Linked DNA regions of Homo sapiens. The protein of the gene in region 1 purifies or fractionates together with the protein of each later gene. This does not show direct contact. Each region holds a gene or a part of one and is shown on either strand. Other genes may lie near its edges. The genes, in order: SPANXC and ZC3H11A.

What was found.
Region 2: the proteins of SPANXC (region 1) and ZC3H11A purify together in Homo sapiens (affinity purification with mass spectrometry; one large-scale study listed by BioGRID and IntAct). This does not show direct contact.

Annotation. Positions count from the first base shown.
Region 1 is NC_000023.11:141,240,745-141,244,094, reverse strand, and holds SPANXC (sperm protein associated with the nucleus on the X chromosome C), read left to right. Parts: upstream 1-1,577; 5' UTR 1,578-1,637; coding exon 1,638-1,709; intron 1,710-2,356; coding exon 2,357-2,578; 3' UTR 2,579-2,632; downstream 2,633-3,350.
Region 2 is NC_000001.11:203,850,886-203,854,709, forward strand, and holds the end of ZC3H11A (zinc finger CCCH domain-containing protein 11A), read left to right. Parts: intron 1-171; coding exon 172-239; intron 240-1,255; coding exon 1,256-1,514; 3' UTR 1,515-3,239; downstream 3,240-3,824. UniProt on the Homo sapiens protein: Through its association with TREX complex components, may participate in the export and post-transcriptional coordination of selected mRNA transcripts, including those required to maintain the metabolic processes in embryonic cells.

The DNA.
Region 1 (3,350 bases):
GATAAAGGTTACAAGGTTTATAGAAATTATATTTTATACTCAAGATGATTAAACTTTTATTATAAAATTTCAAAAAAACAAATTTCATTTGCCGCATCCTGTTTTTAATTAGGGCTTATTGTTTGGGATATTAAGCCTCCTCTCTCAAAGAATAAAGATTTTCACCTTTTTTTTTTCTTTTTTGAAATCTTTGAGTTACTGCTTTGGTTAAATGAATGACTTATTTTACAATGACCCATGACCCTATTTCGTGATATCAAGCATTTTAAACTTTTTATCTTTGACGAACTTTCCAAAGTCAAATTCTAACTTGATTCCTCATTAATTTTTTGATATGAGTCCTCTGAAGTCCAAAAGAGACATATTGGTCTTATTTGGTATAAAAATCATACAAGAAGCATCGTCAAATATAAAATGCTGTTTGACTTTCTTTGGGCTGTATTTATAGAAATGTCATTGATATGTGCTCCAAAATTATGGGAAACTCTTATACTTCTGAAATAACTTGTGTATGTTATTAATTATAACTTTTATGTTAAATTCTTGTATGCTACAGAAGTAACCAAAATTTACTTGTCAATGGTGGTTTTAATAATGGCTGTCCTGGCTGGGTGTGGTGGCTCACGCCTGTAATCCCAGCACTTTGGAGGCCAAGGCGGGTGGATCACGAGGTCAGGAGTTCAAGACCAGCTTGGCCAAGATGGTGAGACCCCCGTCTCTCCTAAAAATACAAAAATTAGCCGGGCGTGGTGGCACAGGCCTGTAATCCCAGCTACTCAGGAAGCTGAGCCAGAGAATCACTTAAACCCAGGAGGCAGAGGTTGCAGTGAGCTGAGATCATGCCATTGCACTCCAGCCTGGGCAACAACAGTGAAACTCCATTTCAAAAAGAGAAAAAAATATACACCCCTGATTTGAAACAAGACTAGGATACACGGTAAAGAATGTTTATTCACTAAAGTTTTGACAGACTGAAGGCCATTATTTCAGATTGGAGATAGGAAACTTAAAAGAACTACATGGACATTGGGTAAAAGAACATGGGTTGAAATTTGCCTGGCAGTAGCCCAAAAGTAAATGGTCTTCGAGGTGCATGTGAAGGAACTGTAGGAGGGAAATGGGATAATTCACATCTCTGCCAATAAATAAATGTAGCCACACTAGCTTGGGGGATTTGAGGTGAGACATCGAAAATACTAAGTCATGGTGAGGGCTGGAAGACAAAAGAATGAATCACTTAATAGGAATGGCTGTGGGGAAGGGCTTGAAGGAATCATCCTCTGACTTCCATGTGAACCGTGAACATTAAACATGGAGAAATGAGGAGCGGCGGCAGATCGGTTTGGGATGCATCTTCAGGGGATGCTGAAACAACAACAGCATTTGGTTTGCTCTACACCCCTGTCACCCCTCGCCCGCAAGCCCAGGGAGTGGTCAGCAGTGGGGCTTTGTGATGTGAAGCCACCCTAGGGCTGCCATTGGCTGGGACACTGCCTGTATGATCAAACAAAGCTCAAGGGTGTGGCTTTGCCTTGTCACCAGGAGGGTATATACAGGGAGGGCAAGAGCTCCGGGCCACTGCGAAGATTCAAAACCTACAAAAGCCTGCCGCTGACATTGAAGAACCAATATATACAATGGACAAACAATCCAGTGCCGGCGGGGTGAAGAGGAGCGTCCCCTGTGATTCCAACGAGGCCAACGAGATGGTAAGACTGTTAGGTTTTGAATTGAAGGCGAGGGTGAAAGAAAGACACACAGAGCGGGGGCGGCTCAAACAACAACACAGGAATATTGCAGACCATTGTGGAAGTGGGGGGCCCGCTTAATGCCAGAGCCCACCGCCGCTTACAGGCTGGGGTGCTTGTAGGTAGGGGTGGGAGGGGCCTGGGCAGTATGGCTTGCTGCCCGGCAGGATATTGATAAGATGTTCTTATGATCAGGTGGTTTGGCCCTTTTTCTGGTGGAATATCATTGTGGTGTTCCTTAGAACGCTGCCAAGCAAGATATGATAGGGATGTTTCTTCAGTTGGGCCTTTGTCCGCCTTGCGGACAGGTGGTTAGGCAGGATGTTTCTCACGGCCTGAACCCCCATGGGATGTTTCACTTTGACCAAGGTCTGCAAAATAGCAAAGAACTGACAAAATGGTGCAGTTTGGACTCACAGGTGACCCTACCCACGCTCCTCTTCTTCTTCCCCATAGATCCCTACTCTGTGCTTCAACCTTCTTCTTCTCTGGATCAAACCCCTTCCTCAACCCGCATTCCTTCTTCTCATGAAGCCCCCTTGCTATCCAGTCTCTATCCTGTTCACCCAAAATAATGTCCTCCTGGCCTCTCCCTGCTTTCTTAACAGATGCCGGAGACCTCGAGTGGGTACTCAGACCCGCAACCTGCTCCGAAAAAACTAAAAACATCTGAGTCCTCGACCATACTAGTGGTTCGCTACAGGAGGAACGTGAAAAGAACATCTCCAGAGGAACTGGTGAATGACCACGCCCGAGAGAACAGAATCAACCCCCTCCAAATGGAGGAGGAGGAATTCATGGAAATAATGGTTGAAATACCTGCAAAGTAGCAAGAAGCTACATCTCTCAACCTTGGGCAATGAAAATAAAGTTTGAGAAGCTGATGGCTGTGTATATCTCTGCCTGTTTTCTGATGGTGGCGGGGGAAGGGAAGGGAAGGGAAGAGGTAGGCATTTGAGAAGGGAGGGATATGAGGTCCTGTAGGGTTGGTGGACAGACCCACAGGTTGACAGTAAGCCAGACATTGTAAATAAGGCCTGGGGGAGGACTGATTCCTAAAGAAAATTTTCTTCTTAAAATTTTATCTCACAGGAAGTGGAGATGTGTATATGTTCACGCAACTGTACCCGGCAGCACATAGTTCTGCTGAATGTACATATCAAAGGTATTCCCATCCCCTTTCCATTTGATATTTTCCTAGGCTAGAAATAGATGCTTTATAAAGCGTAAATGTTCTGTAAAACACAAAGCACAATACAAAAGAAGATAGTAGATGTAGGAGTAAGTAAACGGCAGGAAAGCATTGCTTGTGATGAAATGATTGAAAAGCCAATTCTAAAACAAAATGTTCAATGCATCTTAAATATTTGTTAGTGTTTTAATGACCTCAGCAGTCTTTAATCAAGATAAGTATGCTTTAGAAATGTGTTGATATCCGCAAAGTGTGAATATTCAAAATCGCCATGACTTGGGAAAAGGAAAGTAAAACACTCTTAAGTATGAGGAGCTTTTTCCCATGGAATGTGAACTGCAAGGTGGTGAGAAGGGTTAGGTGTGATGTGGTGAGATCATTTTTAGGAGAGTGTGTCTATTATCGGCTTC
Region 2 (3,824 bases), on another chromosome or scaffold:
GGTGGCAAGATATTTTGCTTATTTATATACTCAACCTTTAGATTATCGATTCTTAGATTCACAGGCTTAAAGAATCATAGCCACAATTCTAAGAAGGCAGCAAAAGAAAATGAATATGCTCAAATTAAAAAGCCTGACTCTCACTGAATTACCTGACTCTTCCTTTTGTAGGCTGTTGTCCCGCTTGTCTCTGAGGACAAATCAGTCACTGTGCCTGAAGCAGAAAATCCTAGAGACAGGTAATACTTTGTAATTCTTTCTAAACAAACTCCAGGCCCCTGTTACTGTTTAGGCTCTCTAGAGAATAACACTGATAAATAACTTTAGCAACATTCAAATAAATCTGTTGCACTTCAAATTAATTGCAAGAAAGTATGAAAATCTAGGGTTGCTGTTCTTCTTTGGTGCCATTGTTTACATTTTGCTATATTACCTAAAAGATGTTTTTTTGTTTTTTTGTTTGAGGCAGCGTCTCACTGTGTCACCCAGACTGGAGTGCAGTGGCACAATCTCTGCTCACTGCAACCTCCACTTCCCGGGTTCAAGCAATTCTCCTGCCTCAGCTTCCCAAGTAGCTGGGATTACAGGTGCCTGCCACAAGGCCTAGCTAATTTTTGTATTTTTAGTAGTGACAGGGTTTTGCCACATTGTCCAGGGTGGTCTCAAACTCCTGACGTCAAGTGATCCACCTTCCTCGTCTTCCCAAAGTGCTGGGATTACAGGCATGAGCTACCATGCCCGGCCCCTGAAAGATGTCTTTAACACCTACTTTGAGTTATAAAAATGCTTGGTGCTGGCCAGGCAAGGCGGCTTATGCCTGTAATCCCAACATTTTGGGAGACTGGGGCTGGAGAATCACTTGAGCTCAGGAGTTCAAGACCAGCCTGGACAACATAGTGAGGTCTTGTCTCTAATAAAAATCAAAGAAATAAAAAAAAAATCACATGGTGACACACACCTGTAGACCCAGCTACTTGGGAGGCGGAGGCAAAATGATCGCTTGAGCCCAGGAGGTCGAGGCTGCAGTGAGCCATGATTGTACCACTACACTCCAGCCTGGGTGACAAAGGGAGACTCTGCCTCAAAAAAAAAAAAAAAAAAAAAAAAAAAGCTTGATCCCAAATCAGTAAAAGAATTATTTCTTTATGTATGTTCTTAAAAACAAATTTTTGCTCACTTTGTGTCCGTGAGACTAGGTGATTCAGCCAACTATTTTTAAAACGGCAGTTTTCTAATAATCTTTTTTTTCTTACAGTCTTGTGCTGCCTCCAACCCAGTCCTCTTCAGATTCCTCACCCCCGGAGGTGTCTGGCCCTTCCTCATCCCAAATGAGCATGAAAACTCGCCGACTCAGCTCTGCCTCAACAGGAAAGCCCCCACTCTCTGTGGAGGATGATTTTGAGAAACTAATATGGGAGATTTCAGGAGGCAAATTGGAAGCTGAGATTGACCTGGATCCTGGGAAAGATGAAGATGACCTTCTGCTTGAGCTATCAGAAATGATTGATAGCTGAAGGTGGTAGTGAGGACACTTTAAAAAAAAAATCGCCAAAAAACTGGACTTAGTTTCATCTATTGTAACATTTACCTGAGATGATCATTTCTTTAGTCTAGAATTTGCCCCAAATCAGAAGTATACCTCTGAATTATCTGTATGTGTCCTGGATTCCTTGGGGTCAGATTTTTAAAGTTACTTTATAACCATTTTGTCCATTTGATGCCATTGTTTATCATCTTTTGAGAAAAAAGTTCTGTCATACCCTTCTCTCCACAAAAAAGAGACTGAGAGGGAGATCAAGTGAAAGGGTGCAAGCGAACTTAGTGACTCCTTGAGGTGTTTGTCAGTTTTGGCTTTTTTCTTCTTTGTTGTATTCTTTATGTATTGTCTTGATGTACTTAATATTACCTGAGTTTGAAATGGATGAAGACAGCTGCTACCATTAAGGACCAAATTTTATGCTACCACTAAACAAAAATACCCACTCAGTCTGTGTTAAATTGTATGTCTTTTTAAAGGTATTTAAAGATTCAACTAAGCTTTAAAGAGGGCTGAGCAGCTCAGGAAGCCTGTAATGTGGGCATAACTCTTTGGACCTGATCTTGATGCTTCTGCTGCTCTGTTAGCCTCTGAAGAGCAATATCTAATTTATTATTACTGTAATTTTTTAAAAGGCTTTAAAGTGCCTCAGGGGTCCCCTGAAACTAATTTTCTATTTCTGGGATTCCCTGGATTCATTATATGAGATGGTGACATGATTAGAGGAATTCTTTTTTAGTATGAAAATTGTCCTTTTTCTTCTTCAGTACTTGCCTCCTTGCTGGCATTGAATTAACACAGGGACAAAATTTGGTTAATTTTTTATTTCTAACTCTCCCAACAAACCCCTGTTGCCCAGTATTTGTTTGGTGGCCTTTAACCACCTGAGGGAAAAAATGAGCTTATTCAAGCTGCCAATATTTATCTATGGGCTGTAGCAGTACACTGAATTGTACTGTGCCAGGGATATTGAGATGCTCTGGGGGTGTATTGTATACCTGCCAGTTTTCTTCATTTCTGAATTGAGTTTTCTTTTCTTGATGTTGGTTTCCTTCATATCACCTCAAGGTTTAGATTTGTGAAGGAATAAGCATGATGGAAATAATAGTCTTGAAAGGAGATATGTTGTATATAATCAGGAGGAAGAGGAAGGAAGGACTTACCCATTTTGATATTTTGCTGTAGGTGGCCAGTTTTGTTTCTCATAGGGAAATCTGACCCACCTGTCATGTTGGCTCCTAAGGAACTGCTGTTGTAAGCGGCTCATCAAGAGTTGAACTTCACGTAGCCTTGTTGGGAATATGGAAAAGGAAGAAAGCCACAGGACTGCCCATTCAGTCTTGGGAAGATTGGGATGATTCTGCACAAGCAAAAATGACTGAAGTTTATGTATAGACACACCTCTACCAATCCATCTTCAGCTGACTGAATGTTGTATGATAGCCCTTCTCCAAAGCAGAGGTAGAATGTTCAGGTTTCACCATGGATTTTCTACTTATTTCGTTTTTGGAATCAGCTTACAGATTCCAGGTCCCTTTTGTATATATTCTTTATTCTTTTGCTTTTTTAAAAAATAATTTTGTTTCATATTTAAAGCACTTGTATTAGTCAATGTTTCGTGTTCCGCATTATTTGAACCATTTGCCCTTACAGAAAGAGAAATACTTGTTTGTGTTTTAAATAAAACTGATGTAGGAAAGTCTTGATGTTGTGAGCTAAGTAATCTTACATCATCATATCAGCCTGGGATCCATCTTGACAAGAGACCCCAGACAGAATGCTATTGGCCTTTCGTGTAAGTGCCCGAATTTCAGTTATTATTTGGCTTAGAAACCTTTCATCTGGATATATTGCCAAATTTACAAGTGTGCTCAATTTTAGCTGCATATGCTTTAGGTAAGAATTTATATTATTATAATGTGAGGATTTTTTTTCTGACACGGATACTTACTCCTTAGTGTTGTAACTCAAGCAATGCCATTAAGTTTTTAAAAGGAGGGAGGGTTTAAAAGTGATCTTAGGGAGTCTCTCTGGGCCTACTCTGGCTCAAGAGGCTGATAAAAAATAAATAAATGAATAAACTTGATCTTTAGAGTCAACGATTTAGAATTTTCAAGCATGAAGGTGCAGCAGATAAGAAATTTAATTTATAGAAGTCCAGGTTTCTTAATATGTGTGCCAATTTTTAAAATTGTAGGAAAGTATATGTTTGTTAGCTACCAAAGAACATAGATTTTTCCTATTAGTCTAAAAGTCGTCCCAACAAGTTGAATCAACTTTTCACAAA